3 linked regions of the Homo sapiens genome follow. The protein of the gene in region 3 interacts with the protein of the main gene of each other region in a biochemical or structural test. Each region holds a gene or a part of one and is shown on either strand. Other genes may lie near its edges.

The links.
Region 1: the proteins of USF1 (region 3) and TCFL5 form a complex in vitro, tested with the Homo sapiens proteins (one study listed by BioGRID).
Region 2: of the proteins of USF1 (region 3) and TAOK2, one has a biochemical effect on the other in vitro, tested with the Homo sapiens proteins (one study listed by BioGRID).

Annotation. Positions count from the first base shown.
Region 1 is NC_000020.11:62,840,505-62,849,464, forward strand, and holds the end of TCFL5 (transcription factor-like 5 protein), read right to left. Parts: intron 5,644-8,960; coding exon of another isoform or gene 5,632-5,643; exon of another isoform or gene 5,614-5,631; coding exon of another isoform or gene 5,398-5,613; exon of another isoform or gene 5,199-5,397; intron 1,594-5,198; coding exon 1,471-1,593; 3' UTR 501-1,470; downstream 1-500. Other genes in the region: COL9A3 (collagen alpha-3(IX) chain), read left to right, coding at 38-228. UniProt on the Homo sapiens protein: Putative transcription factor. Isoform 3 may play a role in early spermatogenesis.
Region 2 is NC_000016.10:29,974,499-29,986,140, reverse strand, and holds part of TAOK2 (serine/threonine-protein kinase TAO2), read right to left. Parts: coding exon of another isoform or gene 11,506-11,642; 5' UTR 11,493-11,505; intron 8,404-11,492; 5' UTR 8,369-8,403; coding exon 8,237-8,368; intron 8,053-8,236; coding exon 7,981-8,052; intron 7,890-7,980; coding exon 7,788-7,889; intron 7,343-7,787; coding exon 7,297-7,342; intron 7,168-7,296; coding exon 7,071-7,167; intron 6,947-7,070; coding exon 6,833-6,946; intron 6,725-6,832; coding exon 6,633-6,724; intron 4,481-6,632; coding exon 4,387-4,480; intron 4,283-4,386; coding exon 4,201-4,282; intron 3,408-4,200; coding exon 3,240-3,407; intron 3,091-3,239; coding exon of another isoform or gene 3,070-3,090; coding exon 2,809-3,069; intron 2,639-2,808; coding exon 2,477-2,638; intron 929-2,476; coding exon 563-928; intron 484-562; coding exon 280-483; intron 1-279. Other genes in the region: uncharacterized protein LOC124903762, read right to left, coding at 11,506-11,642. UniProt on the Homo sapiens protein: Serine/threonine-protein kinase involved in different processes such as membrane blebbing and apoptotic bodies formation DNA damage response and MAPK14/p38 MAPK stress-activated MAPK cascade.
Region 3 is NC_000001.11:161,039,883-161,051,335, reverse strand, and holds the start of USF1 (upstream stimulatory factor 1), read left to right. Parts: upstream 1-5,358; 5' UTR 5,359-5,478; intron 5,479-6,351; exon of another isoform or gene 6,352-6,424; intron 6,425-7,975; 5' UTR 7,976-8,060; coding exon 8,061-8,068; intron 8,069-8,453; coding exon 8,454-8,503; intron 8,504-8,663; exon of another isoform or gene 8,664-8,665; coding exon 8,666-8,781; intron 8,782-9,118; coding exon 9,119-9,220; intron 9,221-9,489; coding exon 9,490-9,685; intron 9,686-9,924; coding exon 9,925-10,012; intron 10,013-10,463; coding exon 10,464-10,522; intron 10,523-10,665; coding exon 10,666-10,760; intron 10,761-11,005; coding exon 11,006-11,134; intron 11,135-11,326; coding exon 11,327-11,416; 3' UTR 11,417-11,453. Other genes in the region: ARHGAP30 (rho GTPase-activating protein 30), read left to right, coding at 1-22, 1,647-1,912, 2,002-3,621.

The sequences.
Region 1 (8,960 bases), on a different chromosome or scaffold from region 3:
GGCTGCAGCTGAACTCACCTTTCTGCTCTGTCCCAAGGACCCCAAGGCGTGCCCGGCACCAGCAAGGACGGCCAGGACGGTGCTCCCGGCGAGCCTGGGCCTCCCGGAGATCCTGGGCTTCCAGGTGCCATTGGGGCCCAGGGGACACCGGGGATCTGCGACACCTCAGCCTGCCAAGGAGCCGTGTTAGGAGGGGTCGGGGAGAAATCAGGCTCTCGAAGCTCATAAAATTCAACGTGAGGAAGCAAGTGACAAGGACGCCCGAAGCACAGTGGACGGTCATGAAGGAGCGGGGGTGTGGCAGGCGGGTGACGTCCAGGAGAGGGAGCGCCCCTGGCTGCCCCTCGGCCGCCGACTGGACGCGCGGGCCTTGCCAGCGAGCACCCTCATCGGGCTGTCGCCTGACAGCATACCTCAAAAGGCCCTAGCTAATAAACCTGTAAGCCCAGCATTTGAGAGAAGGTAGGGTGTGTATATATAAAAGGTTGTGTACAACTCCACGAGGTGAAAAATATTCAGTAACTTGTTTACATAGCATTTGTGTAAAGACTATGATCTCATCCCAATAAAATGATATATTAAACCTTCAGATTAATGACTGGCTACAGAGTAACAAAAAATAAAGAATTTAATGTACAGTAAATTCTCTCCCATACAAAGGTCTAGTCTGATGTTTTGTGTACAAACTCACATCTCCAATTAACAGTATTTATTGAGGGTGACTTTGTATTGCACTAACGTCTATTGCTATTACCTGTTGTGATTGATAAGTAAAGCCACTCATTGAAAAACCCAATTCCAAACACCACAGTTTGTGACACATGAAGTAATGAATGACTCTTGGTATGAAAACGTGGCATTTAAGCGTCTACTGTGACAGTATTTCATTTGTGGACAAAAGTAGCTTTAAAGCAAGTATCTGGAAAATTTTTAGCACACAGGTTTAAAATGGTCCTGCACGTTGCAATACAGCAGCACGTGACTCAGAGTCATGACAAGGGGGTGTGATATAACGAATGAAATAAAATTTCCAAACTGTTTTTAGTTAACAATTTAACTTGTTCCAATTGCTAAAGGGGCATATTTAAAAGGTAAATAAGTAAAAAGCCGTGTACTTTTTAAGATTAAAGAAAGTACAAAGGATGTCAATTTTTTAAGTTATCATGTTAAGAAAACATGATGGAATCAGAGCATTGAGAAAATGCTTACTAATTATTACTAATTAATTATTACTAATTATTAAGATGGCTTCATCCCCAAATGGTCTAAGAGGACATTCATGGATAAGCATTTGCGTCTAGATAAATATTTTTACAAAATGTGCTCTCAAAGTCCCTACTGGAGTCCCGTCAGCTTGAGTCACGCCCTTTTCGAGTCAGACTAGCCGAGCAGAGCTCCAGGGTTGCAGAAGGCGTGCACAGGTCACGAAGGAATGGCTGTTCACCCCCCGAGGATTCCTGTTCAGTCCGATCACTTGATCTCCATCGAGGGGCTGCTCTGTAAACTCCCCTGTGCAGGACAGGTCACCAAGGAGTCCGGTCTGGTCAGCTTTAGCCTTCGGCCAGTTTTACCGCAAAATACGCTCTCAAATTCCTGCAGTGAAGAAGTGACGGTTAACATACTGAATTAACTGACATGAAAACTGCTGTCTTCCAAAGTGCAAAAGGTTCAAATTAAGAGCTAAGTAAATGACTTTAGAATACGCTGTTTTAAGGTGTCATTCACAAACTTGTGTCTTACCTCACAAGGGGATTTATATAATAAACAGATTTTAACTTTTTTTTTTTCAAATAGCAGTTACACTGTACATGTACTTTTGTTTTTCCAATACTCAGAATGTCTGGCCACACTGTATTGATTTTATTGTGGTAAAATATACATGACATGAACGTTTCAACCGCTAATGGGCCCTAGCTAATAAACCTGTAAACCCAGCGTGTGAGAGAAGGTAGAGTGTATATATTAAAACGTTTCAGGCCGGGCGTGGCGGCTCACGCCTATAATCCCAGCACTTTGGGAGGCCGAGGTGGGTGGATCACCTGACGTCAGGAGTTCAGGACCAGCCTGATTAACATGGTGAAACCCCATCTCTACTAAAAATACAAAAATTAGCTGGGCGTGGTGGCAAGCATCTTGTGACCCCAGCTACTTGGGAGGCTGAGGCAGGACAATCTCTTGAGCCTGGGAGGTGGAGGTTGCAGTGAGCCGAGATCATGCCATTGCACTCCAGTCTGGGCAACAAGAGTGAAACTCCGTCTCAAAAAAATAAATTTTTAAAAAGTTTCAACAATTAACAAGTCAGGGGCATCTACCCCCACCCCAGGGCGACTGCCTTGCCCTCTGCACTGCCACACACTCAGGGTTCCAAGGCCAGCAAGGTGGAGGTGCTGCTCGCTGAGATGGCTCTGTCCTTGGGGAGACCCTGCCAGCAGGGTGGGGGTGGGCTGAGCTTGCTCCTGTCACACCACCTGTCTTTTACAAAAGGCCTCAATTATAATGGTGGGGTCAGTCTCAACCTCCCGAAGGAGACTGAGAGGAAGAGAGGGGCACAGGCGACGGCCCGATGACAGGCGCCAACCACCACGGGCAGAATGTGGAAACGTCTACGGGACAAATCATTCCCTTTTCAACAAATGAACGGTGAGGAAGAAAGGAAGGGGGAACTATTACGGGTTAAGATATATTTAAAAACTATCAACCAAATGTGATGTTTGGATCCTGATTCAAATGAGCTGACCGTAGAGACACCTGTGGGCTCACGGGAGATTCTGCTCAGATTCGGGAAGGAGACTCAGGTGGGTAATAAGGAGTGAAGGCTTTCAGGAAGGAGACTGATAATGCGGTTGTGTTTTTAAACAGGCCTTTTCTTTCGGAAGATATATTTATGAATGAAATGATGTCTGGAATTGTTTTAAAATAATTCAGCGGGGGTGGGAGGGCGAGGGGATAGGTGAAACAAGCTGATGCCTGAAACTGAGTTAGAGGGACCTGGGAGTTCACTTTCTATTTCTGTGCAGATTTGAAAATTTCCATAAGTTGGTTTTAAAACATAGCATTCTACACGATTAAATCCAGGTTTATACAGTTTTTATTGTGGTATTAAAATATAGCATAAAATTTGCCTTTTAAGCATGTGTAAGTGTACAGTGGAGCAGCGTGAAGTCCACTCACAGTGCTGTGCAGCCGCCACCACCTTTTCATCACCCTAAACAGAAACTCCGTACCCATTAAACACTAACTCCACACCGCTCCGGCCCCCAGCCCCTGGCACGTACCAGTCCACTTTCTGTCTCTCTGAATCTGACGGCTCTAGGTGCCTTGTTTACGGAATCCCGCAGGGTGTGCCCTGTTGTGACTGGCTTATTTCACTCAGCATAATGACCTCGGGCCATCCATGCTGTAGCCTGTGTCAGAATTTCATTCCTTTTCATGGCTGAGTAAGATTCTGTTGTGTGCTTGTAACACATTTGTTTACTCATTCCTCTGCTGGAGCACACTTGAGTCATTTCCACCTTTTGGCCACTGTGAAAGGTGCTGCCATGAATATTCATAGAAAAGCATCCATTTGGGTCCCTGTTTCACCTCTTTGGGGTTTATGCTTCTCTGGTGATTCTATGTTGAACCTTCTGAGGAGCTGTCATACTGTCTTCCACAGTGGCTGCACCATTTCACACCCCCAGCGGCAAAGCACAGGGATTCTGATGTCTCCACATCCTTGCCAACACTTGCTATTTTGCTTTTGTTTTTGTTTTTGAATAGCCATCCTAGTATGTGTAAAAGTAGTATCTCATTGGGTCTTGATTCGTATTTCCCTAATGACTAACGGCTTGGCGCATCTTTCATGGGCTTATTGGCCATCTGTGTATCTTCTCTGGAGAAATGTCTATTCAAGTTCTTTGCCCATTTTTCAGTTGTGCTGTCTTTTTTTTGGACAGGGTCTTGCTCTCTCAGGCTGGAATGCAGTGGCACATCCACGGCTCACTGCAGGCTCAGCCTCCCGAGTAGCTGGGACTACAGGTGCACACCATCACGCCTGGCTTTCAACATTTTTTTTCTGTTTTTTTTTGTTTGTTTTTTGTTTTTTTTTTTTTGAGACCGAGTCTCACTCTGTCACCCAGGCTGGAGTGCAACAGCGTGATCTCAGCTCACTGCAACCTCCACCTCCCTGCAACCTCTGCCTCCTGGGGTTCAAGCAATTTTCCTGCCTCAGCCTCCTGAATAGCTGGGATTACAGGCACCTGCCACCACACCCGGCTAATTTTTGTTTTTTTAGTAGAGACAGGGTTTCACCATGTTGGCCAGGCTGGTCTCAAACTCCTGACCTCAGGTGATCCACCCACCTCGGCCTCCCAGAGTGCTGGGATTACAGGCGGGAGCCACGGTTCCCAGTCTGTGTAGTCTTTTTGTTGCTGAGTTGTAGTAACTTTCTACTTAATTCAAGTCCAGGAGGACACAAGCGCCATGCTGCCATGGATTTAACTTCTGAACCACCTGGAGTGACTGGAACATTCCACCCATCCACTTTTAAGCAACTTTCCAACCAAGCAAGCTGCCATTTCCAACTACTGTGTGCACTCAGAATCTACACCTGCATATAAATATACTCATTTTCTTCCCAATTTTTTTTTTTTTTGGATATGGAGTTTCACTCTTGTCGCCCAGACTGGGGTGCAATGGCACGATCTCAGCTCACTGCAACCTTTGCCTCCTGGGTTCAACTGATTCTCCCACCTCAGCCTCCTGAGTAGCTGGGATTACAGGCATGTACCACCACGCCCGGCTAATTTTTGTATTTTTAGTAGAGACGGGGGTCACACCGTATTGGCCAGGCTGGTCTCGAACTCCTGACCTCAGGTAATCTGCCCACCTCAGCTTCCCAAAGTGCTGGGATTACAGGCGTGAGCTACGACGCCCAGCTTCTTCCCAAATTTTAAAAGGTTTTAGGATGCAATTTAAAATGACCCCACATTTTGATAATTTCCTATATTCTGACACCTAAAGCCTACATATAAAAAACACTTGCCTATTTGGCAAGATAGAATTCACCTTTCAGGACAATTAAATGAAAGTCAGAGCCTGGGCCGGCTCCGGAGAAGTTAGACCCTCGGAGCTGGTCTCGGACTGCTGGGGCGTCACCCCTTCAGCAACCCCCGCTGACCATGGCAGTATTTCATGACGAGGTGGAAATCGAGGACTTCCAATATGACGAGGACTCGGAGACATATTTCTGTCCCTGCCCATGCGGAGATAACTTCTCCATCACCAAGGAAGAGCTGGAGAATGGGGAAGGTGTGGCAATGTGTCCAGGCTGCTCTCTCATTATAAAAGTGATTTATGACAAAGATCAGTTTGCGTGTGGAGAAACAGTGCCAGTGCCTTCAGTCAACAAAGAATGAGTTAAATGCTAAGGAAGCCTTCAGGAATCCGAACCCTGAACAGCTGGAAATGAGCCCAGATAGAAACTTCAAATGCAAAGCTCCTGGCTTCGTGGAGACACAGCCATTTGTGATTTGCTGTTCTGTAGGCGTGTTGTGGATTCTTTCCATCAACTGCTGATTTCATCTTCAGGAAGCAAGTCCATAACATGACGTATCTGGAGTTTGTGCTTAGAACCTTAAATTGGAAGCATTCTTAATTATCCATCTAAATTTAAAAGACGATAATTTAAAAAAAAAGAAGGAAGGAAGAAAATAATCATCCTCAGACATAACTAGGCGCTCGCAAGATCTTCTGAACTATTTTCACACAGTGATGAGGCTAGTCCCGGCGTCTGCCTTCACTATGAACAGTTGGGCAGAGGCAGGGTTGAGTTGTGGTTCCATCTGGACCCTTGCAGGGCCCGCCCACGACCCGTCTCCTGGGAGCTGGGGCAGCTGTGAAAGAGAGGAGCAGATCCCCTTAGTCCTCCTCAGCTGAGCCCAGGCCAAAGACGTGGTACTGATGTCATCGCACTCTCAATCTGCACCTCAATCCAAATGCATCTATTTGCAACAGAACATATGTGAAATCGTTGAGTTTTAAAGGAATTTTTATAACATCAAAACATTGAGATGACAACGTCCCAAAGCAGATACTCATGTTAGATTTGTGAACATGAGAAGAATAACAACAAGACGGGTGCGGTGGTGAGGGGCGCCTACGGTCCTAGCTACTCGGGAGGCTGAGGCAGGAGGAGCACCTGAGCCCAAGAGGACGAGGCTGCACTAAGCTGTGGTTGCACCGCACTCCAGCCTGGGTGACAGAATGAGGGCCCCTCGCTGGGAAAAAAAAAAAAAGAGAGAAAGAAAAAGAAAAATAATAATACCAACAATAAAAAAAATTTTCTTAGTAAGAAAAAAGAAATAGCTCTAACTATGAGTCAGGAAAATATACCAGGAAGTTATTAAGAGGAAGAAAGCGGCCGGGTGCAGTGGCTCACACCTGTAATCGCAGCACTTTGGGAGGCCGAGGTGGGTGGATCACCTGAGGTCGGGAGTTCACGACCAGCCTCACCAACATGGAGAAACCCCATCTCTAATAAAAATACAAAATTTGCCGGGGTGGTGGCACATGCCTGTAATCCCAGCTACTCAGGAGGCTGAGGCAGGAGAATTGCTTGAACCCAGGAGGCAGACGCTGTAGTGAGCCAAGATCGCGCCATTACACGGCAGCCTGGGCAACGAGTGAAACTTCATCTCAAAAAAAAAAAAAAAAAATTACAAGCTATTTAAAACTGAGAAACAATGAAAGCATTGTGTCCTAACCTGTGAAATGTTTCAAAAGCACACCAGGACAAATTTACTATAATGCATTGATTAGAAAACAACATAGACAAAATAAACTTTCAACCCAAGATACCAGAAAAAAATAAAACTTCAAGAAGGAAATAATAGAAATAAGGTTTTGGGATAATAAAGATAAGAGCAAATTATGATGGAAAAAGCACTACCACTGACCCCACATAAAAAACCAACAAAGTGAATGACTGAGCCCCAGAAAGACTCCAGCACGGCCCAGGCCAGAGGGGTACAGCAGACCAAGGAGCTCAGGTGGCCAGAGGTAAGGAGGCATAAACTCATTAGGACAAAAAGAATGGCTTTTCTTTTTCAAGATGCTTTATTTTTAAAACAGGTCACAACACAGCGTTCGGCTCATTCTGCCACGAACAAGCTACAAACGCTTGCTCTGCAGCCGAGAGGCCCTCCAGTGGCCATGTTCAAAAACAGAATGAAAATCCGTATGTAGGCCAGGCGCGGTGGCTCACGTTGGTAATCCCAGCACTGTGGGAGGCCGAGGCGGGCGGATCACCTGAGGTCAGGAGTTCGAGACCAGCCTGGCCAATATGGCAAAACTCCATCTCTACTAAAAATACAAAAATTAGCTGGGCGTGGTGGCGTGACCAAACGGCATGGGAGGCCATGATCACAGGCTGCTGGGAATGGATCCAAGAGAGGATGAAGTGGCTCAGGAGGTACAGACAAGCGCCGGGCAGCCGGGCAGCCAAGGAGAGCAGAGAAATGGGCGGTTGCCAGTACAGGACACGAGGTCCAGGGAGTTCTCACAGAAGGATCACGGGAGAAGTCACAGCGTGTCCGCAGGAAAGGAGGAGAGAAGGGACAGGCCAGTCCGAGTCTGCAGCAGGGCCTGACAACAGACAGCACGTGAGGGACAGCGACACCGGGGCCTGATGCAGATGGCAGGGAGATGCGAAGCGGGACTCAACCACCTGCTGGTGTGAAGAAGGGAGGGACAGACACCACAAGGGAGGCCCCAGGAGTGGCTGGCACCTTCAGGGCCCCCAGCGTGCAGGGGCATCTCACAACTAAACACAACCAGCGCCCCAGACGCCATCCCGACTGGGGAAAAAGTTGTAGTGGGCACTATTGAGACAGCAGGCAAAATGTGAATAACAGTCTTGCACCAATGTTAAATGTCCTGATTTTCATCGTTGTGGATATTAAAAAGTCAACACGGGGGCCGGGCACAGTGGCTCAAGCCTGTAATGCCAGCACTTTCAGAGGCCGAGGCGGGAGGATCACCTGAGGTAAGATCGAGACCAGCCTGGCCAACATGGCGAAACACTGTCTCTACTAAAAATACAAAAATTAGCCGGGCGTGGTGGGATGCGTTTGTAATCCCAGCTACTCGGGAGGCTGAGGCAGGAGAATCGCTTGAATCCAGGAGGCGGAGGTTGCAGTCAGCCGGGATCACGCCATTGCACTCCAGACTGGGTGACAAGAGCGAGACTCCGTCTCAAAAAAAGTAAACACTGGGCCGGGTGTGGTGGCTCAGGCCTGTAATCCCAGCACTTTGGGAGGCTGAGACAGGCGGATCACAAGGTCAGGAGTTCAAAATCAGCCTGGCCAACATGGTGAAACCCTGTCTCTATTAAATACAAAAATTAGCTGGGTGTGGTGGCTCAATGGTAATCCCAGCACTTTGGGAGGCTGAGGTAGGCAGGATCACTTGAGGTCAAGAGTTTGAGACCAGCCTGGCCAACATGGTGAAACCTGGTCTCTACTAAAAATACAAAAATTAGCCGGGCATGGTGGGCCATGCCTGTAGTCCTAGCTACTCAAGAGGCTGAGGCAGAATTGCCTGAACCTGGGAGGCAGAGGTTGCAGTGAGCTAAGATGACACCACTACACTTCAGCCTGGGCAACAGAGCGAGACGCCGTCTCAAAAAAAAAACACGGAAGTATTTAAGTATAAAGAAGCATGGTGTCTGCAGCTTACTATCAAATGGATCCCAAAGATACCTGGAGAGAAACTGGGACCGGCAGGGAGAATGGAGCAAACCCGGACAGGCCTACAAAGAGCTCTTTGTACTGTTCTTGCAATTTTTCTGTAAGTTTGAAATTACACCAAAATTTAAAATTACCAACAGTAAATAGAGCCATCTAAACCCAGAATGTGGGGCATTCTCTAGACAACCGGCCTGATCTCTTCAAAGCCTCAATGCCATAGTTAATAACTGTGGG
Region 2 (11,642 bases), on a different chromosome or scaffold from region 3:
CAAGGAAGTGAGGGGCCAGGGCTCCTTGGCAGAGGGAGCTGGGGATGGCAGGAGATGAGGGTGTAGGGGAGGCAAGCTCCTCCCTGGCCTGGGAAAAGAGGCCTAAGGAAATTCTGGCAGGGTCTGTTGGGGATGAGAAGTAAAAGGGGCACTGAAGCAAAGCTGAACTGTAACACTCGAGGGCCAAGGAGAAAGAAGACAAGAATGAGGAAAATGGAAAAGGGTGGGTCCCTGGGATCCACGAGTGAGCGGGAGGGGAACAGAGATTGGGATGCCTACCTCCCGCAGCAGGTCCTGGTCCAGGCTGTGCCGAGCCAGCAACATCTTGCGCTTGTACTGGCGACACTGCAGCTCAAAGTACTGGCGCTGCCGCCGCAGCAGCCCTGCTTCCTCCTCCGCCTGGCACTGCTGGAGCTGCTCCTTCTGCCGCAGCAGCCACTCGGCCTTCTCCCGCTTGGGAGTGCTGGGGTTCTCCTGGAGCTCCTGGGCGAGTGCAGAGGGAAGCAGGGTCAGGACCCACCTGGCTCGCCATCGGCTCCGCCCCCAAGCAGCCCTAGCTCACCTCCTTCAGCTGTTCCTTGCGAAGTTTGTAGGTCCGCTTCTGTGCCTCCAGCAGGGCAGCCAGCTCCTTCTTCTGCTGCCCAAGGATGTGCTGCTGGAACTTCCGCTCCTCGGCCTGGGCAGCTCGTGCCTCCTTCTCACCTATGGCCTGGTGCCGCCGGGCCAGCTTTTCTGCCTCTGCCCCAAAGCCAGCCCGCTGCGCCTCAAGCTCCCGCTGCAGCCGTGCACTGTGCTCCTCCCGTTCACCCCTCAGCCGTGACTCCAGGGCCAGCAGCTGCTTCTGGTGCTGTCGTCGCATCCGCTTATAGCCGCTCAGCTGCTCCCGCAGCGCAGAGTCCTGCTCATGCTCCTGGATCTGACGGCTGACCTGGGGAAGGAGAGAGGGTGAGAGCTGGGGCTCAGCCTGGCCCCTAGTTAATTAACACAAGGGGTCTTCCGTGGGGAAGAGCATGGGTTTTCAACTCATGGGTTTCATTCTCATTTAACACCTTCCTCACACACGGCCACTCTAGCCTGTTTCCTCAACTGGATAATGGTGATATTATCTACATCACAAGTTGGTGTGGCCGAATGATAAAAGGTGGCGAGCACAGGGCCTGGCACAAAAGTAGGAACAATCCATACTAATTTGAAACAGTGAGTCAGACATACCTGGGATCAAATCCCAGCTTTGCCACTTACCAAGCATGTGATCTCAAGTAAGTTAACTTCTCAAAGCACCAGTTCCCTCATCTGTTAAATGGGGAAATAATACCTCCTCATAGGGGCTGTGGGGTAAGTTCGGACTCTATCTAATAAGTGTTGGCTTCCTTCCCCTTCAGCAAACATGGTCGGCCTATCACTCCCCAGGTATTGAGGTGGGATCGGGGCCACAAGATGCTGGAATAACAAGAACACTGGGCTTGGACACCTTCATCCAAAGTCTGATCTCAGGTCTCATTCTCAATTGACTCTATGAGTGGCTCTCAAACTAGTCCCGGCAGCCAAGCCCCTGGCAGTCAAGACCTCTCAGCACAGTACCGCACAACACCATGGGATCTGAAGAATTGTTGGAACACAACCAGCACCAAGCAGAGGCCATAAGAACATACTAGACTTAATCAGTGGCCTCTAAGGGGATTGTTGACGCTCAAATGCAGCTCAGCAGGAACGTGATCTAAAAACATAGATGAAAAACTATGTTTTATGAAAAGCCTAAACACTTTTTCCTGTGAACTGAGAAAGACTGCCATGAGTTGATTTTAGGAGAGGACTAAGGGCCTGCTTACAGGAGCAGAGAGCCACCAAAGGCACTGGGGCAAGTGGCCCCTCTGAGCCACAGGTGCCTCATTTCTCCAATGGGATCTTACCCTTCCCCTCCCAGGGGGGCTGGGAGGGTTAACACAGGCCTGTGTGTAAGCCTGAGAGCTAACTGCTGGCATGAGACAGATATCTGAACACCATCCCTGCCCTCTGGGGCACAGAATCTGGCAAACCTATCATGATGCTGTTCAGGACCACCCAAGCACAGGGCACCCCCGGCACAGGGCTCCCCAGCACTGGACACCCCCAGCACAGGGCTCCACAGGCACAGGGCTCCCCCAGCACTGGGCTTCCCCAGCACACAACTGTGAAGCATCTGACTCACCAGAGGAGCCTGGGAAGGCAACCCAGGAGATGTCAGTTAAGTCAGGCCACAAAAACGGAGTAAGAGTTTGCCAAGCTAGAAACACCCAGATTGGGCCATATGACCAAAACAGTCCACTGGGAAGAGGAGGGAAGCAGGAGGGTTAAGGGGAGCAGGCAGGAGCCAGCAACAGAAAATGAGGGTAGAATCCAGACTCAATCCCATGCCACAGGGAGGAAATCATTTCTAGACTTAAAAAGACTTAAAAAACAGACAGCGAGCAGGCTGAGTGAGGATGGCTACACTCACCAGGGAGGCGGTTCGGATGGTGGCAAAGTGGTCTCGGTTACGGCAGTAGGCCCGGCGGCGGGCGGAAGAGGTGGTGGAAGTGGGAGCTGGGGCTGCAGGCGGCTGGAGAGGGCTGGGGGTTATCTCTGGCTGGTAGGGGTCATCATATAGGTTGTCAGAGCCCTAGAGGGAGATAGAAGGAACACCCAAGGCTCAGAGGCCACTGGGTCCAAAGAGAGCTACCTGAGGACAGCCAATCAGACTCAGAGGAGTGCTGCACTTAGGGAAGGAGGGCGAAGACCCAGGCAGTTCTAGAGCAGGTGGCTCGGGTCCCCCAAGGGTGAGCTGTGTACCGGCAGCCGGTGGATAATGGAGCTGTGAGAGGTGACTGTGTGCTCCCCCTCCTGCATCATGGCCATCTCCCGGGCTTCAGGGCCTTCTTCCTCCTCCTCCTCTTCCTCCTCCTCCTCCTCCTCTTCCTCGTTGTCTGAGGCATCTGCTAGGCTGTTGACGGAGCTGCTCTGGCTGGAGGCGCTGATGGACATGCTGGGCACTGAGTGGCTACTCTCGAGGCTGGTCAGAGTCCCGGCCCGGTGCATGTAGGGCTCGGCCTCCTGCGAACAGGGCGTAGGCTGCTGGACAGGGAAGGGGAAGCCCTGGGGCATATGCATGGAGGTAGCATGGGAAGATGGTGGTGTGAGTAGGGCTGGGGAAGGGGCCAAGCAACTGCAGGGGGCAGGCACACATGGGGTATAAAGAGGGGTGTTAGGGCAAGCTGGGTCACCTCTTCCTCCTCTGGGGCCTCGGCACCAGGGCCGTTGGGTGCCTCTTGGAACAGGATCTTCTTCATCTTGCGGTACTGCAGGTTGTCCAGCTCCCGCACGGCATCCTTGGTCCTCTGGATCAGGTCCATGATGACTGTGGGTGGCCGCTCCCGGAGCACAAAGCGGTGCTGGGGGAAGAGGGCACTGAGGTCTGCTGCCAACTCCCCTTCCCCCCACAACCCACAGCCCTTGGCATTCCCTCAGGCCTGAGGCACTCTTCTGGGGCCCACGCCCACCACGGGTTGATGCTGGCCTTATCCCAAGCCCTTCTCTCACAATTTTCTGTACCACCCAGTACCTACTCCCCAGACAGACTCTTCTTCCTCTAAGCATGGCTGACAGGCAGGGACAGTCAGGAGAACTGGATTCTCGTCCAGCTCCTCTACTAAAGGGCTATGTGACCTTGGACATGTCATGAGGCCCCTCTGGGCTTCATACAGTATCCTACAATTATAAAACAAGTGGGTCCAACTACATAATCTGAAGTTTCCAACTACGGCTCCTCAGGCCCCCATGGGTCTGTGAAGGGAATGGGGCCCCTCCATTTTTGATAATTCAAAAAACACCTAAGGGAAATCATACATTTACCCATGATAAGGCTACACAGGCTTTTGGCTTGCATTACATCAGATCAGTGGGGCAACCCTGGTTATCACATGCTGACCAGAAGCTCTGGCTGGCAATTATATAAATCTTTGATTAATAAAAGAAGGGAAAACAGTTTATTACTTAATAAATTAAGGCAGTCTGGTAGACAAAATCTTGTAAAACACAGAGTCCACTAGGCATTGGGGATGGGGTGGGAATTCATCAACGAAGCTCTTGGTGGAGGAGGAACTGGGAACCACTAATTTCCCTGGGGGTTCTTGTGGCTGTAACAAGCTACAGTTCCAGGAGAATGCTAGGCCAGCAGGCCCTCACCTTCAGGAGAACCTCTGAGGTTGGTCTGTCTTGAGGGATTTTCTGAAGACAGGAGTCGACAAAATTCCGGAAGTACTCAGACCTGAAAGTCACAGGAGGGTGGGAGAGGGGTGGGGAAGGCATGAGTCAGGCATCCATACCCCATGGCCTAACGCCTGGGCCCAGATTCGGAATCTCAGTCCTCACCAGTGTCCTGACTGGAGCACGGGGGATTCGTTCTGTGCAATGTGGTATAAGGCACTCATCGCATTCATGTTAAAGAGCGGTGGTTTCCGTTCAGCTACAGAAAAAGGTGAAAGGGAAGAAGGTGAGAGGTGGCAGGGGGTAGAGGACAATGGAATGGAACTGAGACGACTTGGGTTCAAACCCCAATTCCTTGACTTCCTTGCCACATGACCTTGAGAAGTTCCCATCATCCTGTTGCGTCTCAGTTAATTCCTTCCTCTGTAAAATACAACACCCATCCTCTCCACTGCACACGGGTGGAATAGGGGTCAAAGAAAATAACATCCACAAAAGCAGTAACGAAGGCAGAAGGACAGCCATTCAGTTATCACCCCAACTAATATTTCTTAGGTGCCAAAGGGAGCAGATAACTTGATAATTGCTATGGGGAAGATAAAAACAAGAATTAGGCCCCACCCTCAAGGAACCTCCAGTCTAAAAGATTAAATAGGACTGAAAAAATAACATCAAAGTATTAACTGGTATAAGAGGGAAACAGGGAAGTGGCTGGGAAGTTGAGAGTATGCAGTGAGCCTTCAAGCTAGCATATCTTCAGGGAATTCAGAGAAGGGCTTTGTAAAAAGCCCTGAGATTAGAAAGGTAAGTGCAAGCTAAGAGTCGCTAAGAGTCCCTTGTAGCCCAGACAAATGTCATGTTGTTTTGGCCTAAACGGTGATTTTTAAAATTAACTGCCAAAAGTAATAATCAAATAATAATACAAGTTTCCAGTTTCTCCTTAAGAATTAAATCTGGTGAAATGGAGTCTACATTACTGCATAACAATGGTCTGGAGATAAGCATTAGCTGCCCTCTTTCTATGGAAACAGCAATCTCCAGTTTGCCACATCCTTCTCCACACTGCTTCCCTGATATTGACTTAGTATGAGTTGACATTTATAATCAGACTGATATATATTTTTTTCAATAGTAGAGTAATATTTCTCTGTATCCACATCTCTTCCAAAAACTAGAAATAAAATGGACAGATCTAGCTTTTTCTTATACTTGGGTCCGTTTCTTACATTTTTCATCAACTGTCTGGGCCTGGCATCTAATGGTAAATGGAGACTGTGAAGATGGAGGAGAAGGGCTCGTCCAAATCTCTGACCTCGGGCAGAGGACCCAATACGAACCAAGGCAAGGAAGTGGAAGAGTTCATGACACACTCAGAGGGTGGAGCCCATGAAGGAAAGGGCCAGCATTTACGAAGCAAAGCCTCTAGGTTGGTGGGAGGAAGGATGGGGATGGCTTCAGTCTTGAAGGCAACAGGGGGCCACTCATGGCTCCAAACAGGGAGTGAAATGACAGCACTGAGCTTAGGCAGACCTCTCTGGCATCAGTACTTAAGACAGACTGGAAGGGAGAAGAGACTGGAGAGATCACTGCAGGAGGCTGTTGATAAGAGAAACTAACAGCAACTCTTAGGCAACTGTTTTGTGCCTGGCATTGTGTTGGAAGCCTTATAAAGGTTACCTACCTCATTAAAGAATTGTTTCAATAGTGCTGGCTGACAGAGATGAGAACCTTGGCATGGCTTCAAGGCCTTAGGAACTCACTTGGACCTAACTCTCTGGCCTTATCCTTCAATATTCTCTGCATTACATGCTAGGTTCCAAATAACTGAAGCTAGTCCCAGTTCCCCAGGCCTGCACTTACCTCTAGGCCTCTCACATGCTGTTCTCTCTGCCTGGAAAGCTCTTCCCTACATTCTGCAAACAGCTATTATTTATCTTGCAGGTTGGCTTCAATATTCTCCTACAAGGAGGCCTTCTTCAGCCCCTAAACTAGGTCAAGTCCCCTGTTTTACATTTGAACCGCTCCTGTAACTTCTCCACACAGCGTTCATCACATTGAAAGAAAACATGCCTGCCTGGTTTCCCTAAATCAAATGTAAGTTCCATGAGGGCAGGATTTTCATTCACTGCTATCCCTCCAGAATCACAGTCCATGGCACAGCACATGGTGGGCACTAAGAAAAGATTCAGAACCAGGGTAGTGGACAGGAAGAGATGAATGCTACAAAATCTCTAGGCCTAAGAGCTGGCAGAATTTGCCAGCTGCCTGTATTGGGCTCCAGGGTAGAGTCACAACGGACAGGAACTTGGAGGCCTGGGATCCCATCCCTAGGAGAAGGGGGTAGTCCGGAGTCTGGGAACTAACAGGAAAGAATGGAAAAGATGATGAGGGAACAGGGAGGATGTTCTTACCCAGCTCGATGCAGGTTATCCCCAAGGACCAGACGTCCACTTTGCCATCGTACTGCCCCTCATCCATGGCCAGGATCACCTCGGGTGCCATCCTAGGAGAATGGTCAGGAGAGAGAGGCAAATCACCCGCCGAGACCCTGTCACTCCTACTCCCAACATCCCTGGGAGGTCTCTCCACTCACCACCACTCACTCACTCACCAGTATGGGGTGCCCACGAAGGAGTTGGCAGGTGCCATGATGGACGCAGAACCAAAGTCCCCTAGCTTCACTAACCCTGGCTCTGACAGCAGGATGTTTCCAGCCTTCACATCCCTGCCAGAGGCAAAGTACAGGGATGAGACATGTGTCTCAAGAAAGCTAGGCAGGGGCAGCCCAGCTAAGTGACAGGTGGTGCAGATAGCACTCCCCTCCCAGGCACTGCCGGTGCTGCTTGTACCTATGGATCATGTTGTGGGAGTGCAGATATGCCAGGCCCTGAAGCGCCCCGTGGGTCACAGCTGCGATCTCTACCTCCTGAAGGGGTTTCTTGTGCACTGGAGAGTGAGGAAGAACATCAACCCGAGGGAGCGCAAGGGTGGGACTGGAATAAACTCCCCTTAACCCTTCCCTATGGCTCCCCTGCTCTTCTCCCTTCTCCACTTATTGGCCTATCAGTCACTTACCTTCTAGAAGGTCAGAAGCTGAGCCCAGGCAATACTCCATTACCAGCTAAGGAAGAGACAAGGGTCAGAGATCAGAGTCTCCTGGGCAGGGACTCAAAACAGAGCTTCCTTGACTGTCCTGTACTCAAGCTATGTCCCCGGGGTGATGACAGGGAGGAAGCGCAACTGGAGACAATGAGGGGGTGGTGGGAGAGTTTCTAGAGTCTGGGCCCAAGACATTCACCACTGCCCATCTGAATCCCTTCAAACTCCCATTCAATCTCCACCTTCTCCAGCCCACAGTGACCTGTCCCACCTGCTAACAGCCTGTGTCACTGAGCCAGGCTTTTGCTCAGTGGGTATGTCTGAGGACTAAAGCGGTCAAAAGAGACTTCCTCCTTCCCAAGATCCCACAACAGCACCACGAACAGGGACCACCTAAGAGACTGGACTACGATAAGGACGGGCATGAATAGGAGTAAAGATCAGGCCAGAATCTGGCACCAGCTCACCCAAGCCGTGTGCTCCCTCAGGTAACAGCCCCGGTACTGAATGGTGTTGGGATGCCGGAGCTTCTGTAAGAACCGCACCTCCTTGATGATGTCTTGCCATTTCTAGGGGGTCAGGGTAGGCAGAGGTTACCCAGCTTGCATCTTGAGACAGGAGTCCCCTGTCCCCAACCTGGCTGTATTGCACCTGGCCCACCTCATTGGACTGCTTCCCACTGTAGGACATCTTCTTGATGGCCACCACCTCACTATTCCGGACATCCCGGGCCTAGAGGACCAGACCAGAAGGTGTTGAAGGCCCCATTGAGAGCCGGGCATGGGAAGACTTGCTGGCCCAGCAAGAGAAGGCAGGAAAGACCAGTGTGATGGAGTAGTGTGCAAGGGCTGTTGGGAAGTCCACAGGGATAGGAAGAGTCCCCATCCCTATTACACCCTCCCAAGACCCAACTCACAAAGTATACGGCTCCAAAGCTGCCATGGCCAATTTCCCGGAGGTCAGAGAAGAGCTTTTCTGGGTCATCCTTGAAGAAGAGCTCAGCCACATCTGGGTCCTTCAGGCTCCCGGCCCGGCCCCCAGCTGGCATGGTGGCCCCTGGGGGCCCTGAGAGTGGGGCCTGGCCTGAGGAATGGAAATGGGACCCTTAGAGATCAAGGATTGAGCCTTCAGGGAGAGGAAGGGACCCATCAAGTTTCTGCCATCTCCTCCCCTCATTCCCTGATGAGGAGGAGGCACTGCTGAGGAAGGGGAGGGGGAGATTAGGAACAACATCAAAGCTCCAAAAAATGAAGTTGCCCTGGCAACCAGATCACGCGGGCTGGGTCCCTGGAGTCCCTAAAACTGCTAGGAAGATTCTGGGAAGCTAAGTATCCTCACCACCCCCTTCAGTGCTCAACAAGTTCTCATTTCCCTATAGCCCCTGTATCTCCCCTCAAGGATAAAACATTCTGCTTCCCAGCCAGCACTCCAGAGCCCCAAGTGTCCTGTCCCATAAGTCCTATACCCCAACTGTTTCCAGGCACCTTTCTGTTCCCCTTGGCGCTGAGGCCCCCTCCTCCCTCAACCTCTCACACCCTGGAAGAGAACAGGAAATGGCCAGGCCGGAGGCGGTGGAAATCCGTCCATTGTTAGAAGTGGGTACTGGCCCAGAGGAGCCCGCAAAGTCACTCTCAAAAAAGTCAGGGGGAGATCTAGAATGGGAAGAATAGGGATATAAATGGCATCTGGCTATGAGGGCCTCTCTGTGCTCTGGGCCACCTTACTTGTCCTGTCCAACTGCATAAGCATCACACACAGGTACAGGACATTTGCAGGGTACAAATAACATTTACTGAGTACCTTACGTGCATTATCTCTATTCAGTCCTCACTACAACCTTATGAAGCAAGTACTATGATTTCCCCTATCTTACAGATAAAGAAACAGGCTCAGCAAGGTTAAGTGCCTTGTCCAAAGCTGGTCCTCCATCACTATGATTTCAGAGCAGCCCTTCGAAACAGGCAGGGCAGAATCATGATCACCATTTCCTAGGTGAGGTCACTGAGGCACAGAGAAGAAAAAGGACTTCTCCAAGGTCAGAGAACAGGACCTTCGGCTCCCCGGTTAGGCCTGTATCCATTACTCTCTCAGCTGTCACCCCAAGCTCAGCTCCCCTCTTGCAGGAAGCCTGTCCTGACCACTCCAGCCATTGGGAAGAGCACCTAGGGCACCCAACCAAACACCCGGAGAAAGTTCCTGCAGGATACCAGAACCAAAACCCTCAAGGAGATTCCAAGACAGGCTCCAGCCTAAGCACTTGTCAGAATTTAGGCACAAAGGAGCCTTCAGCAGAGCTGGACTCCTGGGGCAGAGTTCTAGCTACTCAAAAGCACCTAACAATTTTAGCATGTAATTTATTCTGTCATGCATTGTTTCCTGTTGTGTTGTTAATTTTGTCTCAGCCCAACTGGAAGCTGGAGGGCAAGGAGGGAGCCTGACTCTCCAGTGGGCCCCCAGGGTGCAGAGGGCTCAGAATAGCCTGGGAGACTGAGTGATTGCTCTCTGCTCAGCCCTCAGCAGCTCGCAGGTTGCTCAAAGCCGGCCCTTTTCTCCCTTCTGCCAGCAACAGTGCCAAGCACCCCTCACCAGCACCACACACCCACACACAAAGGCAGGTGCTCTCAACTTGCCAAAGGAATCTTCCTGACCTCTTTACCAACACAAGGCCCCAGAATGCTAACCTAGGCCACACGGAGGGGTGCCACCCACTGGCAAAACATCATGCAGGTCCCCTTCCCCATAATAACAACAAACACTTGAACAATAACCAAGGTCTGTGCTAAATCATAACCACCTTCCAAAACGAACAATGTTATCTCCATTCTACAGATGAGGAAACCCGTATCTATCTGTTCCTAAGCTATGCTACCAGTACATCCCGTCTGCAATGTACAGCAACAGGGCTTTAAATAAGTTCCTTCCAGTTCTTGGTCTTCTCTTCAGTGAAATGGATTACAGCATGGAGCTGTTGTTAAGATTTTAATGAGATCTCATACTTAGGAACACCATGCAGACACTCAGCATATGGATTTTTCCTTCCCTGCCTCCAAGGTCCCCACAAAGCTTTAATCCTTTGGGGGATCATTCTACCCCAACAGCTTGGCTTGAACAGTTAAAAGATGCCACTAGTGCTACCATTTGTCAGGAGAGAGCCCTCTCAGGAATCCAGGCCAAACCCTGGGATTGGGGTAAAGATGAAGGTCACAGTGGATAGAAAACTCCATGAGGCAGAGGCAAAAGCCAGAGGCTCCCATCAGGAAAAGCTTCTGAGTAGAGCCCTCCTGGAAAGGAAGCTCATCTCATCCCCATTCTTAAACCTCACCCCAGCCTGGACTCCTAGGGACCCCTGGCCGAGCCCAAACTCAGAGGAAAAGAGATGGCAAGAACCAGGCATGCATCAGGGAAAGATGTGATTGAGGACTTGAGTTCAAATTCTGGTTCTGCCACTGTGTGACCTTGGGCAACCTCTCTCGGCCTCAACGTTCTCAACTGTAAAATGGGAAGATGCCAATAAAAGAGGCCCCCACAGGGTGAATGCGGGGATGTCACATGAGAGAATGGCTGTCAAAGCACTTTGTAAAAGACAGATCGTTTGACAAATGGATGAGATTATTGACACCATCACAGCAAGAGGTTGGAAGGTAACTGCAGCTGGGGGAAAACATTGCCAGGCACCTCCAAGCACACACACACACGCATACACACAAACACATATACACACACTTCCTTGCAAGGACAAGAAATCCAACCAGACCAGGCCTGAAAAGCAGATAAGCAGACCCACCATGGGAATCAGAGGCATGGGAATCAAAACCACAGAATAGCCAGGAGAACGGGACATATCAGGGAGGAGAGGTGGCTGTGAGGGGCAAAGTGAAGGAGAGAAGACTGAAGTGCAAATCCATCTGATTAGCTGAAGCACCCTAGGGTGTGAACGCCGGTGACATCAGAGACCCTGTCACCTGAGGTCCCCCACCAACCAGACACAATGAAGGGAAGAGGAAGGGGAAGGGGGTGGCAACAGAAGGCAAGGCTAGCCAGAGGCTGACCACTCGCTCAGCTGGGCTTCCCCATCCTGAGAGGGCCTACCCAAGTCCAGCTTCTCAGAAAGGCGCACCCTTTCTTCTCAGAACTAGACACAGGGACCCGCGCCCCTGCACCCCGTGTCTCACCTGGTAGGGGTCACTATGGTGCCCCAGCGCCTCCGCTTCCGCCTGGGGTCCTCCAGCGGCTCTGCCAAGCAGGGAGAGGGGCAAGGAGACCTTTCCCCTTGCCACCTCTTCCTCGGCTTTCGCCCTTCCTGAGGGGCGGGCCCGGGAAGC
Region 3 (11,453 bases):
GGCCTTGGCCCTGGCCCCCCAGGTGAGGACCCATTGATTGACCAAGACTAGGAAAGGGGACTGGAACTCTAGGCTGAAGCTCTGATGCTGGAAGATCCACCCTAGGAAGGGCAGAGGCCTCAGCCCTTGGGCTTTGGGGTGGTTACCTTTAGCTGCCTCCCTAGATTCAGGATTAGGGAAATCCAGTAATATTATCAGGCTATGTGAAATCTATGGAGAGGAGATCTCTAGCAGCCTTCAGAACATTGATGTACCCAAGAATAGGGGCCTGTGTCAGAAACATACAGCAGGGATTACTAAGGACAAATGTGGGAATATATAATAGATGGATGGGTAACAATAATAGTAACATCAATACTATCAGCTAACATTTAGCAAGAGTTTATTAAGTACCAGCCAGGCGCCGTGGCTCATGCCTGTAAACCCAGCACTTTGGGATGCCTAGGCAGGCAGATCACCTGAGGTCAGGAGTTCAAGACCAGCCTGCCCAACATGGCGAAACCCCATCTCTACTAAAAATGCAAAAAACTGGCCAGGTGTGGTGGCAGATGCCTGCGGTCCCAGCTCCTTGGGAGGCTGAGGCAGGAGAATCGCTTGAACCCAGGAGGCAGAGGCTGCAGCGAGCCGAGATCACGCCACTGCACTCTAGCCTGGGCGACAAGAGCAAAACTCTGTCTCAAATTAAAAAAAAAAAAACAAAAAACAGTTTATTAAGTACCAAGTGCTAGGCCAGGCACGGTGGCTCACACCTGTAATCCCAACACTTTGGGAAGCTGAGGAGGGTGGATCACTGGAGGTCAGGAGTTCGAGACCAGCCTGGTCAACATGGTGAAACCCCGTCTCTACTAAAAAAAATTAAAAAAAAATTAGCCAGGCGTGCGTGGTGAGGCATGCCTGTAATCCCAGAGACTCAGAAGGCTGAGGCAGGAGAATTGGTTCAACCCAGGAGGTGGAGGTTGCAGTGAGCTGAGATTGCGCCACTGCACTCCAGCCTGGGAGACATAGCAAGACTCCGTCTCAAAAAAAAAAAAAAAAAAAAAGGTCCAAGTGCTGTGATTGCAGGATTGGTTTGTTTCATTTTCTCATAATCTTATGACATAGGTATTGTTAGCCTTATGTTACAGCAGTGGAAACTGAGACTTAGGTTAATCAATTTGCAATTGATTTAGGTAGAAGTAGCAGAGCTAGGATCTGATCCTTGCTCTGACTCCAGTTCCTGAAGTGTCACTCATGAGAAGTCCTGAGGCAGGATAGGATAGTGGGTAAGAACATGGGCTATAGAGTTAAGTAGACTTGGGTTCAAATTTTGGCTGTACTGCTTATTCATTACATGACCTTAGACAAATTGCTTAATCTCTCTGAGCCTCAGTTTCCTCATATGTAAAATGAGGACAATACCCCACATAATAGTTTGGAGGAAAAAATGCCAATGCATTGTAAAATACATAGCACAGTGCTTGGCACCTGGTAGGGTCTCAATTAAGGTAGCAAGCCAATAACTAGGGACATTGGTCTGAAAGGATCAGTCATGCAGAGTAGCAATGCTGGGAGTGCTGGGCCCCTGCTATATCAATGCTAGGAGGACTCACACTGAAAAGGGTCAGGGCTTGACCTTTGTATTCCTGGGACTACTTCTCCCCCAACAGATGAAAAGTTGGAAGCAAGTCCAGCCTCAAGTCCCCTGGCAGACTCAGGCCCAGACGACTTGGCTCCTGCCCTGGAGGACTCGCTGTCCCAGGAGGTGCAGGACTCCTTCTCCTTCCTAGAGGACTCAAGCAGCTCAGAACCTGAGTGGGTGGGGGCAGAGGATGGGGAGGTGGCCCAGGCAGAAGCAGCAGGAGCAGCCTTCTCCCCTGGGGAGGACGACCCTGGGATGGGCTACCTGGAGGAGCTCCTGGGAGTTGGGCCTCAGGTAAGGAGAGCCGTGCTGGGTTTGGGGGTGGCATGGAGTCAAGGGTGGACAGGGCCTCCTGGTCCTGAGTCACAATGCTGTGCCTACAGGTGGAGGAGTTCTCTGTGGAGCCACCCCTGGATGACCTGTCTCTGGATGAGGCACAGTTTGTCTTGGCCCCCAGCTGCTGTTCCCTGGACTCCGCTGGCCCCAGGCCTGAAGTTGAGGAGGAAAATGGGGAGGAAGTTTTCCTGAGTGCCTATGATGACCTAAGTCCCCTTCTGGGACCTAAACCCCCAATCTGGAAGGGTTCAGGGAGTCTGGAGGGAGAGGCAGCAGGATGTGGAAGGCAGGCTCTGGGACAGGGTGGGGAAGAGCAGGCATGCTGGGAAGTTGGGGAGGACAAGCAGGCTGAGCCTGGAGGCAGGCTAGACATCAGGGAAGAGGCAGAGGGAAGTCCAGAGACCAAGGTGGAGGCTGGAAAGGCCAGTGAGGATAGAGGGGAGGCTGGGGGAAGCCAAGAGACAAAAGTCAGATTGAGAGAAGGGAGTAGGGAAGAGACAGAGGCCAAGGAAGAGAAGTCCAAAGGTCAGAAGAAGGCTGACAGTATGGAGGCTAAAGGTGTGGAGGAACCAGGAGGAGATGAGTATACAGATGAGAAGGAAAAAGAAATTGAGAGAGAAGAGGATGAACAAAGAGAGGAAGCCCAGGTAGAAGCTGGAAGGGACCTAGAGCAAGGGGCCCAGGAAGATCAAGTTGCTGAGGAGAAATGGGAAGTTGTACAGAAACAAGAGGCTGAGGGAGTCAGAGAGGATGAGGACAAAGGACAGAGGGAGAAGGGGTACCATGAAGCAAGAAAAGACCAAGGAGATGGTGAAGACAGCAGAAGCCCAGAAGCAGCAACTGAAGGAGGAGCAGGGGAGGTCAGCAAGGAACGGGAGAGTGGGGATGGAGAGGCTGAGGGAGACCAGAGGGCTGGAGGGTACTATTTAGAAGAGGACACCCTCTCTGAAGGTTCAGGTGTAGCGTCCCTGGAGGTTGACTGTGCCAAAGAGGGCAATCCTCACTCTTCTGAGATGGAAGAGGTAGCCCCACAGCCACCTCAGCCAGAGGAGATGGAGCCTGAGGGGCAGCCCAGTCCAGACGGCTGTCTATGCCCCTGTTCTCTTGGCCTGGGTGGCGTGGGCATGCGTCTAGCTTCCACTCTGGTTCAGGTCCAACAGGTCCGCTCTGTGCCTGTGGTGCCCCCCAAGCCACAGTTTGCCAAGATGCCCAGTGCAATGTGTAGCAAGATTCATGTGGCACCTGCAAATCCATGCCCGAGGCCTGGCCGGCTTGATGGGACTCCTGGAGAAAGGGCTTGGGGGTCCCGAGCTTCTCGATCCTCTTGGAGGAATGGGGGTAGTCTTTCCTTTGATGCTGCTGTGGCCCTAGCCCGGGACCGCCAAAGGACTGAGGCTCAAGGAGTTCGGCGAACCCAGACCTGTACTGAGGGTGGGGATTACTGCCTCATCCCCAGAACCTCCCCTTGTAGCATGATCTCTGCCCATTCTCCTCGGCCCCTTAGCTGCCTGGAGCTCCCATCTGAAGGTGCAGAAGGGTCTGGATCCCGGAGTCGTCTTAGTCTGCCCCCCAGAGAACCCCAGGTTCCTGACCCCCTGTTGTCCTCTCAGCGCAGGTCATATGCATTTGAAACACAGGCTAACCCTGGGAAAGGTGAAGGACTGTGATTAGGACCACAGCCCTGGGCAAAGGGGACCAGCAAGTTGTCTTGAATCTCCAGGGTTCCTGACTAGCTGTCTCCTCTGCAGCATGAGCAGCTGTAGTGCCCAACTCTATAGGCTTTGGCCCTCCAGCTTCTCTCTTTGACTGTGGGAGGCACTGCCTTGGTTGGTTTACCTGAACTTGTCTCCGACACAAAGCACTTATCTCTTAGGAGATTCCCAAGAAAGTCAACAAGATCTTGTTCCCAGGGAGTGGGTCATTGGCCAAAGGGAACATAAGGTAGGCAGAAAACTTAAAAGAGTTTGTTAAAGTGAAGACTGGAGAAATTCCTCCCTTCCTCTGAGCTGTGAATCTCTCTTCATGAAAGCCAAAGGTAGAGACAGGGAGGACAGGGCCAGGTTAGGGCCTTCCACACACAAACACTTCTAGAGTTGCCCATTCCTGTTATGTTCTTGGACCCTAAGATACCTCCTGTCCCTTTTAAATCCAGATTAAGAGAAACGTCCAGGAAGAGCTCTTTGAAGCCCTCAATATTTGTTGGAGGGACTGGACTCCTCTCCAGCTCCCCACCCTCTGCCTCCAGTCACCATGTGCAAGAGAGGTCCTGTACAGATCTCTCTGGGCTCTCCTTTCTCCTTTGGAATAACTTGTTCCTATTTCAGGAAAGGGAAATGGTGTCACTCAGGCCCTGGGACTGCTTCTCCAGCCAGGCTGGGGCCACAGGTCCCACTCTAGTGAAGGTCAATGTCTCAGAATAAAAGCTGTATTTTTACACATAGTGTGGAGTCTCATTATTCTTATTAAAGTCTTTGGTGATAGGTATTATATCTTCACATATTTGGCAAAACATTCTTTTTCTTCTTCTTGTTTGGGTGCTCTTCCTCAGTTGTTGTCATGGAGACTAGTGGCCAGAAACTAGAGCTAGGTTCATGGTGGTCAGGAAATAAGGAAGAGAAACTTATATTTACATAATGCGTTCATTATGTGCCAGGAACTGGACTAAGTATCCTGTGCTCACAAAATCTATGTCCTTGATTTTATTTAATCCACACAATTCTGGAAGGTTGGTGCTAGTATCTCCAGTTTATAGATGAGGAAACTAAGGCTCAATTAAGTCAAAATGTTTGCCAAAGGTCTCAGAGGTAAGAAGTGGCAGAGATGGGTTTGAAACCTGGATCTGCCTGGCCCCCAAGCTTGAATTTTTCCCATTATACCACACTACTCCAAATCCATTCAGGGTAGGTCTTGATTGAGAAGAATGGGAATCAAGATTCCTGTCACAGAAGGTGTGAGCCTTTAGAACACTAGAAGCTTTGGGGTCTTTGGATGAGTGACTGCTGACGCGAATAACAAGGAACATATCCAATTCTATGCATGCCCCGATAGGTCGTAATCTCTAGCAGGTAACCTTTCAAAAAGACGCCCTGCGCCAAGATGGCCTCCCAAATAGCCCTTGTTAAAGATGGCGCCTCCGTCGGACGTCCCTCCCTTGATCTCAGCTGGATTCTCTTCTTTCCTGGAATGAAAAAATGCCCTGCCAAGCACTAAGATATTAGTACAAGTTAGTCGTCTCTTTCCCGTTCTTGTCGAAAGTGGCCAGGCCTTCAGCTACATTCTCCAGGACACGGCTTCTTTCCGGCTTCACAAATAACCCACAAACACCAACTCTCATCAAGATGGAGTGAGCGGAAGTGGGGCAGTTCTGAGTTTGAGTTTATGGGCGGGGCGAGAGCGACACTTCCGCCCCTCACCAACATGGCCGCGGGCTGGAAGTGCGCATGAGCAGCTGTCTATGGAGATACCTAGGCCGGGAGAGGGAGAACACAGTTGGAGAAAATCGGCAGCTGAGACGGCCTTGGCCGGTGAGTGTAGGACCGGGCAGAAGTCTGGAAACTGGGTGGACTGGCAAGGCAGGGCAGCTTTGATTTTGTTTCCGTTTTTCAAGTTAGAGAACACTGCTGGGGAGGAAGCCTTTGTTTTGGGGGAGGGGGCTGTGCTGGTTCTTTATCTCATACCCTGCTTTGTGGGCCAAACTCTCTCCCTTCCCCAGAGCGCGAGCGTCCCAGCCCTCCTGCGCTGTCCAGCTGCGCGCCGCAGCCGCCGGCACCGGGCGCTTGAGCTCCCTAGTCCCCGAGGCCCTTTCCTGCCTCCTCCGCGGAGCAGCTGGGGCGCGGGGCTAAGACTGCGGGGCTGCGGGGTCACGGCGCAGGCTCCCGGGCTCGCGCCTGGCGGGCGCTCAGCTCCGTAAGCGCCTTCTGGTTGGTGAGCCTGCAGGGAGACGCCTCATTCTAAGGCAAGGTCTAGGTGCCTGACTTCTTTCGGGAGTTGATTTTTTTTCCCTTTGTGTCCAGACTTAGCAAGGGCTCTTACTGGGCCCTTCTGGCCTGAGCGTGCACACCACAACGTCCCATCCCTGTTTCCGTGTCACCGATCCCTAATGCCTAGGAAATGCTTCCGGATGTCCAACTAAGATTTGAATAAGTACCCTGACCCCGTTGCTGGGTGTCCTCAGAGACTGCCCCGGCTGACAGCTGTGGCCAATAGAGATGCCTCCTGTGCCGGGCCCTCTATTTCATTGCCTTCCCCTGCAGTCAGCGCGGCAAGCTTCGCAGGGCATTTCCTCTTCAGGTTTGAAGATGGAAATGTAGGTGGTCCCAAAACACTAGTGCTACTTCCCCTTATCGACTGGGATCTCCTTGCAGCGTTACTTCGTCTGTACGGTTTCACTTTCAGTTCCTTTTTCAACATTTTCCTCGGACGCGGTCTTTCCGAGGCTTATCCATTGAAAATTTTCCTTGGATAGGAAAGGTTTGGAGGACCTTATGGGTAGAGAATTTCCAAAAATCTTGCCCCTTTTGTGTTGGGATTATCTTATTGCTTTGTACTGTGTAGCTGTTTCTTTCTGGAGGCATGTCTGCCCAGCTCTTTGTTTTTCCTGCCCTCTGGCTGGGTGTCAGGGTCCTAAGGCAGAGCTTGTAGGTGGATTCTTCCCCCTTTGTCTCTTCTTCAGAACCCTGTTTTTTTTTTTTTTACCCCTTCTTGCTCAGGCTTAGTTGATTTGGAGTTGTCATAGCAACATTTTAGCAACAGTGTTGTTCTGCAGGAAGGCTTGATGAATAAAATAGAGAATGCTTGAAGAGGATCCACTTGGGCTTTAGGGTTTCTAACAGATTATATAAATCTGGATACCCCAAAACAAGAGTCCTGTCAGTAGAATGGGGCCCAAATGCCAAGTCTAGTCTTTGTGGTCAGGGATATTCTTCCAGTGGTAGTGGGCTTCAGATTTCCTCTTCCTAGGTTTGAAAACAGAAATGTCTTGATGGACAACATGTGGCTGAGAAACTGGAAGAAGCATCAGTGTCCATGACACTGTATTTTTTGATGGTGGGGCCAATACATGGCCCTTCCTGATTCCCATGAAGCTGCCATCATGGCAGGTCATAATAGCTTTAATGATCCATTTAGAGATGTGTTGTTGGCTGGGTGCGGTGGCTCATGCCTGTAATCCAAGCACTTTGGGAGGCCGAGGCAGGCGGATCACCTGAGGTCAGGAGTTCCAGACCAGCCTGGCCAATATGGTAAAACCCCATCTCTACTGAAAATACAAAAATTAGCTGGGCGTGGTGGTGGGCACCTATAATCCCAGCTATTCAGGAGGCTGAGGCAGGAGAATCACTTGAACCCAGGAGATGGAGGTTGTAAGCCGAGATTGTGCCACTGCACTCCAGCCTGGGTGACAGAGCAAGATTCTGTCTCAGAAAAAAAAAAAAAAAAAAGAAAGAAATGTGTTGTTTCGGCCAGGTGCAGTGGCTCACACCTGTAATCCCAGCACTTTGGGAGGCTGCCGAGGTGGACAGATCATGCTCTCAGGAGTTCGAGACCAGCCGGGCCAACATGGTGAAACCCCGTCTCTACTAAAAATACAAAAATTAGCCAGGCGTGGTGGTGTGCACCTGTAATCCCAGCTACTCCGGAGGCTGAGGCAGGAGAATCACTTGAACCTGGGAGGCAGAGGTTGCAGTGAGCTGAGATCGCGCCACTGCACTCCAGCCTGGGTGACAGAGAGAGACTCTGTCTCAAAAAAAAAAAAAAAAAAAAAGTGTTGTTTCTGTCTTCCAGTATAATTATCCACTCTCCACCAGGAGTTGGAGTGATAATGGAGGGATGGGGAACACTATTTGTAGCCTTGCTTTTTCAATCACTGTAGGCCAGTCCTCAACATCAGTATGGTGGAGGCTGATTGTCCCCTGCAGATGACTGGGTTATTTTCCTGGCTATGTGTTCATGGAACCTAAGTTCTAGAACCAGAGATACTGTTCTGTTTCCTAAACTCATTGCAAACTTCATGATTTCTACCAGGACTTAGCACTCAGGCCTGTGAATCAGGAGATACAAAGACCTCCAAAAAAGGACCAGTTCCTCGGATGTGCCCCCTCACAGAGAGATGAAGGGGTGAGTGAAGAAGAGGTAGGGTCTGGGATGAAAGATGGGTGGCCTGGAAGAATGCAAAATGACCAAGAGCACTGCCTCTGGAGTCAGGCAGACCTGGATTCAGGTTCTACTCTATCACTTACTGTGTGATTTGGTTTCTCTATCTATAAAATGGAAGTAGTGCTATCTATCTCGTGGTGCTGTTTTTAGTACTAAATAAGATTACATGTAATGTACTTAGCTTAGTGCTTATGTACATAGTAAACAGTAAACACTAGTTGTTATTCTAACCTAACCCAGCTTCTGTTGGGAATGCCAATGAGTTTGCAGCCATATGTTACTGGGCCAGTGAGCTTCTCATTGACTTCTTCTCATACTCTTCCTTTTGTCCTTTCACCACAAACAGGCAGCAGAAAACAGCTGAAACGGAAGAGGGGACAGTGCAGATTCAGGAAGGTGAGTGCTAGAAACAGAACCAAGACTAAGAACCCATCATGGCCTCCCTTCCTTCCCCACCAGACCATCTCCTGTGCATCCTCCTCCTTCCGTGACATGCAAATGGAACGGGGGTAGAAAGGCAGTTAACTCACAGACTTTTCCTTTGTTCTTTTAATTCAGGTGCAGTGGCTACTGGGGAAGACCCAACCAGTGTGGCTATTGCCAGCATCCAGTCAGCTGCCACCTTCCCTGACCCCAACGTCAAGTACGTCTTCCGAACTGAGAATGGGGGCCAGGTAAGGGAGGGGGCCAGGTGGCTGCAGGTGTTATCTGGGGTTGGGATTGAGGGAGGTAATTGAACATGTCTTGGGGAGACCTGGCTTGGAGGATGAGTTGAAAGAGTGGACTGTTGCAGGGGAGGGAGGTGCTAATACTGGAGTAGAGACTGGTGTGAGGTTAGATGTATGCTGAAACCTCTGTGTGGGGAAAGAAGGGAGAATGGCTGAATCCATGTCTCTGAAGGACTTTGTTTTGGGGCCCTATCCAAGGGAAGCTTTATGAGGGGCCCTAGGATTCCCAACACTTAATCTTTTCTTCTCTCTTCACTCCCTCTGCCTTCCTCTACACTTCTAGGTGATGTACAGGGTGATCCAGGTGTCTGAGGGGCAGCTGGATGGCCAAACTGAGGGAACTGGCGCCATCAGTGGCTACCCTGCCACTCAATCCATGACCCAGGTACAGGGTATGGGCTGGGGAGGTCACTAGAGTTCTGAGAAGTAAGATGAAGAAGGGAATCAGTAGGATGGGGGTGAAGCTAGGAACAGTGAGGCATCTAAGGCTGCCTTGTCCCAAAGCACTAGGCTCTCCTTTTCTGGATGTTTCTCTCTCTCTCTCTCTCTCTCTCCACCCTACCTACCACCCCAACGGATAGAAGCTGCAGAGTGGTGTAGTGGGAAGAAGTTTTTGACTGTTACCAGAATCAGTTTTCTTGCTCCCCTTCCCAGGCGGTGATCCAGGGTGCTTTCACCAGTGATGATGCAGTTGACACGGAGGGGACAGCTGCTGAGACGCACTATACTTACTTCCCCAGCACGGCAGTGGGAGATGGGGCAGGGGGTACCACATCGGGGAGTACAGCTGCTGTTGTTACTACCCAGGGCTCAGAGGCACTGCTGGGGCAGGCGACCCCTCCTGGCACTGGTGAGATATTGCATGAGGATGCTGGCTGAAAGGGCTAGAATAGGCTGTGGGACATGACTGGTAGGCAGTGAGCCTTCACTCATGACTCTTAGTGATCATTAAGACCTGGACAGGCAGTGAGTCTGGGGCTGCTCTTCTATTAGCATGTTCTTTTTAGAGGAGGGGACCAGGGTCTTCACCTCAGGGCTTGGTGAGGTTCCTACCCATGTCCTGACAGAACCTACCCTGCATCTTCACAGGTCAATTCTTTGTGATGATGTCACCACAAGAAGTACTGCAGGGAGGAAGCCAGCGCTCAATTGCCCCTAGGACTCACCCTTATTCCCCGTGAGTGACCCTTGTTTCTTCTCAGATTCCGTAAGTGGTTTTTTTTTTTTTTTTTTTTTTTTGAGACAGAGTCTTGCTCTGTCACCCAGGCTGGAGTGCAGTGGCATGATCTCAGCTCACTGCAACCTCTGCTTCCAGGGTTCAAGCGTTTCTCATGCCTCAGCCTCCTGAGTAGCTGGAACTACAGACATGTACCACCACCCCTGGCTAATTTTTGTATCTTTAGTAGAGACAGGGTTTCACCATGTTGGCCAGGCTGGTCTCGAACTCCTGACCTCAAGTGATCCGCCTGCCTCGGCCTCCCAAAGTGCTGGGATTACAGGTGTGAGACACCACACCTAGCTACCATAAGTGGTCCTAATACCTGCTAAATCTTGTATAATTCCTTAACCCCAAACTTCAATCATGTATTTTGTCTTCTTACTCTGGCCACCCTGGGCTCTGTTGTCAGGAAGTCAGAAGCTCCCCGGACGACTCGGGATGAGAAACGCAGGGCTCAGCATAATGAAGGTAGGTATGATCTGGGTGGAGCTAGAAGCTGTCTGGTGTGATCTCAGCAGTGATGTCTGAGGGGAGGAGGGATTAGGTAATTTTACCCTGGGACTTGTGGCGAGTTTTCACTGAGTCACCTTGTCCTCCACTTTGCCCCACAGTGGAGCGTCGCCGCCGAGACAAGATCAACAACTGGATCGTGCAGCTCTCCAAGATAATCCCAGACTGCTCTATGGAGAGCACCAAGTCTGGCCAGGTCATGGAAAGACCCTGGTAGTGGGCAGGATGCCTGAATTCTGCCTCCTGGTATTGTTTCCAGAAATGGTAGAGAGAGGGGCACACATGACAGTAGTCTTATCTCTCCCTGAGGTTCCTGTATCCCTGGGAGATATTATACCACCTTCCTTAGATGAAAATGAGGTCCAAAGTGTGAACCTACTTTTGGAAAGCAAGCTGGGTATCTGAAATCCTAGTTCTCATTTTGTTGACCTTATCTTGCAGAGTAAAGGTGGGATTCTATCCAAAGCTTGTGATTATATCCAGGAGCTTCGGCAGAGTAACCACCGCTTGTCTGAAGAACTGCAGGGACTTGACCAACTGCAGCTGGACAATGACGTGCTTCGACAACAGGTCAGACTCCTACCCCCAGTGCAGCCCTTCTCAGTTCTGCTAGCCACTGACCCAGTTTGACACCCTCTACTTTGTTCTCCATGGAGAAGGCTTCATCTTTTCCCCCTCACCAGTGGATGTCTGAATACATTCAGGGGCTTGGAAGTGCCAGCTTTACTACCCATTCCCTTTACTGCCTCCTTCCCATGTCAGGTGGAAGATCTTAAAAACAAGAATCTGCTGCTTCGAGCTCAGTTGCGGCACCACGGATTAGAGGTCGTCATCAAGAATGACAGCAACTAACTATGGGGATTCAGGGGCTTTGGGCCCAAGAACTGCA